Regions from separate parts of the Homo sapiens genome. Here region 2 is reported to be linked to region 1. The links are microRNA targets in miRTarBase. Many come from high-throughput screens and were not tested one by one. Region 1 holds a microRNA gene; the other region holds the end of a gene's coding sequence.

Evidence for each region. Region 1 holds the annotated microRNA hsa-miR-3612 (AGGAGGCAUCUUGAGAAAUGGA, at 1,988-2,009, opposite strand). A microRNA usually pairs through its seed, bases 2 to 8, with sites in the 3' UTR of a target mRNA and lowers its output. Matches are read on the target gene's strand: a 7mer-m8 pairs with bases 2 to 8, a 7mer-A1 pairs with bases 2 to 7 and ends in A, and an 8mer does both.
Region 2: miRTarBase lists ZYG11A as a target of hsa-miR-3612. Seed matches in the 3' UTR shown: 7mer-m8 at 1,323-1,329.

Annotation. Positions count from the first base shown.
Region 1 is chr12:128,291,749-128,296,113 of GRCh38, reverse strand. MIR3612 (microRNA 3612) reads right to left here and starts at 2,022; the gene lies at 1,936-2,022. All of the region lies in intron 1 of TMEM132C (transmembrane protein 132C), which reads right to left.
Region 2 is chr1:52,892,575-52,896,574 of GRCh38, forward strand. ZYG11A (zyg-11 family member A, cell cycle regulator) reads left to right here. Exons shown (of 14, transcript NM_001004339.3): 14 at 208-2,424. The coding sequence ends at 383. It overlaps ECHDC2 (enoyl-CoA hydratase domain containing 2), which reads right to left. Exons shown (of 10, transcript NM_001198961.2): 10 at 3,336-4,000. The coding sequence ends at 3,946. Among named protein-coding and RNA genes, the nearest start is that of ECHDC2, 27 kb to the right of the region's middle.

The DNA of each region.
Region 1 (4,365 bases):
TCAACAAATACTCTCAAAACAAGGGTGCTACTTCAGTAAATATAGGGGACAAAGAGAGACAAAGGGACTTGGACACTAGGAAGAAAGGGAGGCAAGGGGAGGTACAGAGAAAACCAATGTTCACTCATTCTTGCAAGATGCATTTCACTGCTTATTATGTGTTGAATATCCCATTACAACCTGAAGATATGGAAGGTAATAAGGAAAGGCCCATGTCTTCAAGAAATGACAGAGCAGAGAGAAAGACAGAGGAATGTACAACTAAATATGGTCTGAAAAGTACAATATTCTACAAGGATCAAGAAGGAAATAGGAGAAATTTTTAAGGTTTTTTTTTTTTAATTGGTGCTTAAAACTGAAATCTATGACTGGACTGGTCTCTGATCACTGAGCAGAATTTTATGTGGGGCTCTTATTTTTCTTCTTTCTTCAGGTTGTACCCCACCCTTTTTTCTTTCTTTTTTTTTTTTTTTTTGAAGGACTTAAAAGGCACATCAGTAACATTGGAGGGCAAGTCTAAGAAGTCGGGTAAGGAATGAAAGCATACCCAGGGGAGGGGGTGGAAGGTAGCAGGCTGTTACAGACAGGACGCCCTGGACATCACAGTTTCAAGGCGGTCATTATTTATTTTCCATGTGACCCTACACGTCTCAGTTTTCTCATCTGTAAAATGGGGATGGAACTGCCTTCCCCTCAAGTAGGTCTGAGGCTGAGAGGGAATGATGCTGATGAAAGGTCTTAGTGAATAGCTATAGCTATACCAAATATTTATTTTGGGACTGGGTGTGTTGACTCACACTTGTAATCCCATAACTTTGGGAGACTGAGGCAGGAGGACTGCTTGAGGCCAGGAGTTCGAGGCTGCGGTGAGTTGTGATTGTGCCACTGCACTCCAGCCTGGGCAACAGAGCAAGACCCTGTCTCAAACATAATATAAATTTATTTCTAGAGCTAGCTCCATACAGAATTTCAAAGAACCTTGGGGCACTTGAGTACTGGCATCTATTTGTATACAAAACAGGATGAAACAGGATAAATCATTTCTTTCTCAATTTTTTAATTTTTTTTTTTTGCTGGGGGACAAAGAAGCTTGAACTTCTTATCTATCTACCTATCTATCTATCTATTATTTATTTATTTAGGGCTCACACCAAGCATTGGTTCCTCAGATACAAGTCAAAGATGAGGAAAATGGAGGCATTAAAATATTTGAAATCTGACTACAAAATGGCTGTGTTCTAAACGTCTTTGTTCCTTGAAAATTCATGTGTTGAAATCCTCCTCTTCAGAATGGAGGTCTTAGGAGGTGGTACCTTTGGGAGGTGATGAGGTCACGGGGGTGGAGCCTCATGAATGGGATTAGGGCCCTTATAAAAGGGTCTAGGGAGATTCCTCTCCCCTCCACTGTGAGAGGACATAGGGAGAAGCCCTGTCTATGAACCAGGAAGCCGGCTCTCACCAGATAGTGAATCTGCTGGTGTCCTGATCTTGGATCTCTGGGCTCTGGAACTGCAAGAAACAAATTCCTGTTGTTTAGATGCTTCCCAGTCTCTGGTATTTTGTTAGAGCAACTAGAACAGACTAAGACAGGTGCCAATCATAAAATATCAAATTTCTTCCCATGCTCAGAGTGCCACCAGCCATTTCTCCAATGGCTTGCATTTTCTACTCTTTCCAGAATTAGAGAGGGAGAGGAAGTCAGCTGAAGCCTGAGTCCTGTTAGGGCCACCTTGCTGTGTGAGTCACTGAAGTGTGGTTTTGCTGCTGTTGAGCATTGTTGGCTGGTTTCTGCAGATTTGGTAAGCCCCAGTCTCATTCAAAAGCCCCAAAAGTGAGACGCGTGTCTGGTCTCCTTGCTCCTGTTGGTCTGCTAGGCTTGTTCTACTAGGACACCTTTGGACACCTTCCCATGGGCGGTTCACAGAGGAAGATGCTGAGCTAGGGGTGTCAGGACGCCTCTAGTGAACTGGAAGTAGATCCCATTCCTTCCATTTCTCAAGATGCCTCCTCATCCCCAGTCCCCAAAGTGAATGACTGAAGTTTCTACTGCTCTGCAAAACCCAAGATAGGTCACCATTTTATTCCATTCTGATTCCCCCAGCAGACACAACCACCTGATTCCCCTTCGGAAATATTCTGCACCAAATGAAATCCGAGTGAGGTCATTAATTATGAAAATTCACAATGCGTAATTATAATAATTACTCTGATCACATAAACATTATACCACCATGAATAATTTAATAGGAATTGTGCTTTTGAAAAGCATGGCAATTAAAATAAAACCCAGGGAGGTGACAGAGACGATGCGGGAAATATATGCTCCAGTTTGTTCAGAGGAGGCTGTGCAGTCTCCAGAATGCTCACTCTTTGCCATAAAGAATCACTCTCGACCTTAGGAGGTTGGGAGACAAAGAAGGCAATGAGAGACCTGAGAGTTTACAAATGGGCTCCACTCCTGAGAAGTGGAGATCAAGAGTTCAAAGAGAGGCTGTTTTTCCCCTAAATAAAACAAGTTCAATCATCTTTATCTTTATCCCCCAGCAAAATAAAATAAAATAAAAAATCCTGATTGAAGAAGAAATGATTCATCCTGTCTGGACACCAATTCTCAAGTGCCCCGAGGTTCTTTGAAATTCTGTAAGGAGGTAGCTCTAGAAATAAATACAAGTTTTCTGGCCTCCCGATGGGTGGTGTGTACAACTAAGCAAAACAATCAGGGTGAAGGGATTACATTTTGCACTAAAAAGAAGAAATAAGACCAATTTACCCTGTGACTTTTATTAACCATGACAAAATCTTTTTTAAGTACCTTACTAAGTTTGTGAACAAGCAGCAATTTCTGCAATGAAACGGCCCCCTGAGATTAGGGAATTAAGTTATTTGGAATGGTTGGAAAGGAGAGTTTATACTGTGGAGAGGTGCAAAATGAGACCAGAGGGAGTTTGGACCCAGTTTTTAAAGAGGATCCTCTGTCCTCACTGACAGCAATCCAGGAGACACTACAGGTTCAGATTTGCACACTCCTTACCGTTCACAAAAAGCTGAACTATTATCTTGCTGTCCGGCTTTCAAATTTTTTGAAAATCAAGGTCTACTGTAAGAATCACATTTTACAACACAAGTTGGTGCTCGTGCTTGCATATACACACACACACATACACATACCTACACCAACACACAGAAAACACAGACCTACCATGTGAAATGTGCTCTATTAGGAATAGAATTTCTATGCTATTCTGTTTATGAAAGAAAACTGCTGACAGCAACAGTCTATCAAGTTAATTCCACTGTGTCATGATCCACAGTTCTTATTGTACACTTAACAGACACTTATGAAGTGCCTCATCTAGGTACTAGGGTACCTAGGTACTAAGTACACTTATGAAGTACCTCATCTAGGAATTTAGGTACCTAGGTACTAAGTACACTTAACAGACACTTATGAATACCTCATCTAGGAACTTAGGTACCTAGGTACTAAGTACACTTAACAGACACTTATGAATACCTCATCTAGGTACTAGGGTACCTAGGTACTAAGTACACTTAATAGATATTTACAAAGTACCTGCTGTGTGCCCAGCACTCATCTAGGTACCAGGGTTTCAGTACTGGCAACAGAGACAAAATCTATGCCCACGAGGAGCTTACATTCTACTGGAACAAGTTAGAAAAAACCATTGACAAACCCATTTCTTACAACTGCTGGGTGAGGAAGTTGGGCAGGGATTGTCAAAAACAGGTTCAGGTGGGGAAGTGTGGGCCTGTCTCCCTTGTACACAGCAGGAATCTCAGGGAGGCCGGCTTTGTTTCCAAGGCTTTCCTCTAAGTTTTGCCTTTCATTCTGTTTGACCACGATTCTTTTGACTGCAAGAAACAGAAAGCAAACTTGAATGTGCATAAGAAAAAAGTGATATTTTGTCAGAATTCAGCCAGAAAAACAAAACAAAACAAAATGCTGTAGTTACTGGAACAGAAGGGCTTAAACATAGGAATTGATTACGTAGTGAGGCAAGAGTTATGAAGCAGAGACGGATGGTGAGACACCTAGATACCAGCGACAGGAGGGCACCCCGCAGCCCTAGGGGAGGAGGAACAATGGGTCCCAGGGGGTTTCCAGGGGCCAAGGCCACCCGTGGGGCAGGGTGCAAACCAGGACACAGTGCGCAGAAGCTGCCTCCGGTCAGCCGGGGTTCCTGAGACGCCCTGGCCATCACTGCAGGCAGTCCAGGAAGAAAAGCAAGAAAAGGAGAAAAGCACTGTGGCTTTCCCCACTTCAATCTCCCTCCTGTCTTCTGCCACTGCCTCAGACAGGACTAGAATGTGTCCAGAAGCCAGAAAACAAGGGAACCTGGGAGG
Region 2 (4,000 bases), not on the chromosome of region 1:
TAAACATACTAAAATGAGCATCTGTTACCTCATACAAGCCAAGCAAGTTTTGAAGAACTGCTTTAGAATTGACTCATTTTATCTGTTAATTCCTAGGCCAAAGAGCTTAAACCTTTGTATTGTTTCTTCAGCAAGGTGAATGTGGTGACATGGGAGTATTTAAAATGCCAGTTGTCCATGGAGTGTCTCTGCTTGATTTTCTTTCAGCCAGCAAATACTGCAAAATGTTAGTTGAAGAAGAAGGATTGCAGCTTTTGTGTGATATCCAGGAGCACAGTGAGGCAACCCCCAAAGCACAGCAGATTGCAGCCTCCATTCTGGATGACTTCAGAATGCATTTCATGAATTATCAGAGGCCCACTCTGTGTCAAATGCCCTTCTGAACCTAAGGAATTTCAGAGGTGTGTGCTCTTCCTCAATGTCAGGTGTTCTGCCCTGGCAGTAATTGCACATCAGTTGTCATTGGAGTTTGTGAGTTGGCTGTCTCATTGGCCTTTGATTGTTGATTTTATATATGTTACAAAAGGTTGGATTTGTATGATAGCTGTAATCCCAAGTCAAGTTGGACTCATTCTGCAGCCTTTCAGCAGCAATTTTGAAGACTCAAACCGTGGACTCTGGGAAGGCCTGGGAGCTTGTGTTGGAACAGCTATGCAAGTTACTTTTCTCTAGCCTTGGACAATTTTTTCCCTTTGGGAGCTTGTCATGGGAGTGGGACCTGTTCACTAGAAGAGAAAGGAAACCTACAGGGAGACTTTGATATTTATATTAAATTTCCTTTGTTGTTATCGTCATGTGAAGCTATGAGAAAAGCTTGGGAAGCATATGCTTCAAAATGTAGTGTTTAGAAGGCAGAACCCCTGTTGGAGAGCGGGGAAAAGAATTTATTTATTTATTTATTTATCTATGGCTGGGTATGGTGGCTCACGCCTGTAATCCCAGCACTTTGGGAGGCCAAGGCAGGTGGATTGTCTGAACTCAGGAGTTCGAGATCAGCCTTGCCAACGTGGTAAAACTCCGTCTCTACCAAAAAATACAAAAATTAGCTGAGCGTGGTGGTGTGCACCTTTACTCCTAGCTACTTGGAGGCTGAGGTGGGAGGACCACTTGAGCCCAGGAGGCAGAGGTTGCAGTGAGCTGAGATTGCACCACTGCACTCCAGCCTGGATGACAGAGTGAGACCTCATCTCAAATGAATAGAGGGGTGGAGAAAAGAGAAATATATTTTTTTACCTTTTTTTTTTTTTTTTTTTTTGTGACGGAATCTCGCTCTGTCGCCCAGGCTGGAGTGCAGTGGCACAATCTCGGCTCACTGCAACCTCTGCCTCCCAGGTTCCAGCAATTCTCCTGCCTCAGCCTCCTGAGTAGCTGGGACTACAGGCACATGCCGCCACGCCCGGCTAATTTTTGTATTTTTTAGTAGAGACAGGGTTTCACCATATTGGTCAGGCTGGTCTCGACCTCCTGACCTCGTGATCCACCCGTCTCGGCCTCCCAAAGTGCTGGGATTACAGGTGTGAGTCACTGCACCTGGCCTTTTTACAATTTTGGGTGTCTATCTTTGGCATGTTTCCTGTTATGTGAGCATGACATGCTGTGTATGTGAGTGAGCTTGTAGGGCGTGGTGGGACTTAGGCATTTGCAGACAGTGTTTAGATGAAAGATTACATGTAATGATAAATCTGAATCCCTCCATTTTATTTGGGTGGAACCATGACCAAAAATGGTAGGAAGACGAAAGGCCAGAAAGAGACTTTGCCAGAGAGTTCACGGAGTTTTCTTACCCCGCATGCTGACTAAAGAAAACATGGGCTTTTCTGAAACCAGCTTCAACTACAGTATAAACTATATCAGAAGCTTACTTGATAAGCCTTGCGGAGCTGCTCTGAGGAATAGTGTGAATTCCTTCCTTGCCTTATTGTTGACTGTTAATGAACATGTTTTGTCATTTATCTGTTTAAGTTTTTCAGAAAATAAAAGTAAATTTCTGTTAGCACATTTTAGGATTAGATTTTTGTGCTTTTGGCTGGCTTGGTTCAGATTCTTAACTAGAGTACCATGTACTGTCTTTGGAAATCAAATGAGGAAGAAGCTCATTCTCTTACTCTAAACCATGTTCCAAACTATTACCAGAGTCCAACCAGATAAGCAGAATTTGTAACCTTACTTCCTTCCATAGTCCTTAAACTGTACTGTATTTTTTCACACTCTTGCATGATTCCAAAAGGATATCTTCCTGACCTGGGTTCTAGTACCTCAGAGCATTGTTATCAGATGCTAGCTTATTCTAATGTGAGGATGTGTTAGGGGAACTAGTGTGTTAAGTCCAATTCTGTACAAGACATCCTTTCAAGTTCTGTGTCATTCACAACAATCCTCACGGGTAGGTGAGTTTTATTTTCCTCACTTAACAGATGAGAAAAAGGAAGTTCAGTAAGGTGGTTACTTTCCTGGGTTGTCATAGCTGGTGTGGTTTGTGCTGACTGTAAAGGCCTGGGCTCTCCTGTGTTATTCTTCCTTCCAGGATGCAAGCATAACCCTGGGAGCACATTTGTATTTTGCAGAAATCCGCAATGTTATTTATATTGTATCCATGCCCATGGTTTAGTGACTCTAGGCCAGGCTGAGGCTCAGCTTAGCCAGCGCTCAGATCCAGTTGGAGAATGACTGCAAAGGCATAGCTTAAGATGTAGCCTTGGTACCAGAGGAGGGAGGGGTATTGGGACCAGTATGGTTATGTATCAGCCTGCTCTTGGTTTTCTAAGTGTATCATCCTCTTCCTCACCTTTGCTCATGCTGTGTCAAGCTTCCTCTTCTGTACTTGAAATGTTCCTTAATCCTTCAGGCTTCAATTCCAATGTTAGTTGCCCATTTCCGGATCCTCCCTTCTTTCCATTAGAGTTAATTGCCCCTTTCTTCTCAGTGCTCCTAAATGCTATCAAAGAGTCTCCTGGAGGCTAGGTGTAGTGGCATACACCTGTAATCCCAGCACTTTGGGAGGCCCAGGCGGGCGGATTGCTTGAGCCCAATAGTTCAAGACCAGCCTGGGTGATATGGCGAAATCCTGTCTCTACAAAAAAATACAAAAATTAGCTGGGCATGGTGGCATTTGCCTGTAGTCCCAGCTACTCCAGAGGCTGAGGTGGGAGGATCACTTGAGCCTGGGAAGTGGAGGCTGCAGTGACCTGAGATGGCGCCACTGCACTCTAGCCTGGAGCCTGGGTGGCAGAGTGAGACCCTGTCTCAAAAAATAAAAAGAATTTTCTGCCACCCTGTAGTTTACAAAAGTGTTTCACAGTGATGATTTCGTTTGGTCCTCACGAAAACACTGTAAGTTAACAATTAAAACATATTTATTGAATATGAAGTGTTTTTATTTTGCTAAATCTTCACAAGTTTTGTTTTGTAGGTGAGGAAGCTGAGGCCCAGAGCATTTAAACAATTTGTCCACGGTTATACAGCAAGTAACTGGCAGAGACTGGGATCTGCAGTCTGACCCCTGACACATGTTCAACCGATGTCAGAGTTTATTTATTACCTCTGTTGTTCACAGGAAGAAACTAGGGGTATCTTAAAATCTTCTGACATCTCTAATGAGTGCCTGATAACTGAGAGAGGTCAGGGGCTGAGAGCCAATGATACCAAGACTCAGAGAGATCTAATTTAATTCTTTATCATTCAAGTAGAGAGACAGGCATTTTCCAAAGCAAACCCAACCCTCGTGATTATTTCTAGCCAGGGTGAAGCTAAGGAAGGTAGCAGTAGGTGGTAGGATCAGCACCTTGGTTCCAGGCATCACGCCAGTCATTTTATTTCCATCATCATCCTTGTGAAGAAATGGAAGTCTGGAGAGGTGAAATGATGAAGGCAATCTGGCCACAAATCTTCCTTCTGGATCCTGCTCTTCAGGGCATGCATCTCCCATGCTGAAGGTTAAAATGGGGGTCATTTGCCAACAAATTTGGGAGTCCGCTTCTCCCTGAAGGCTGCCATGCCCTCT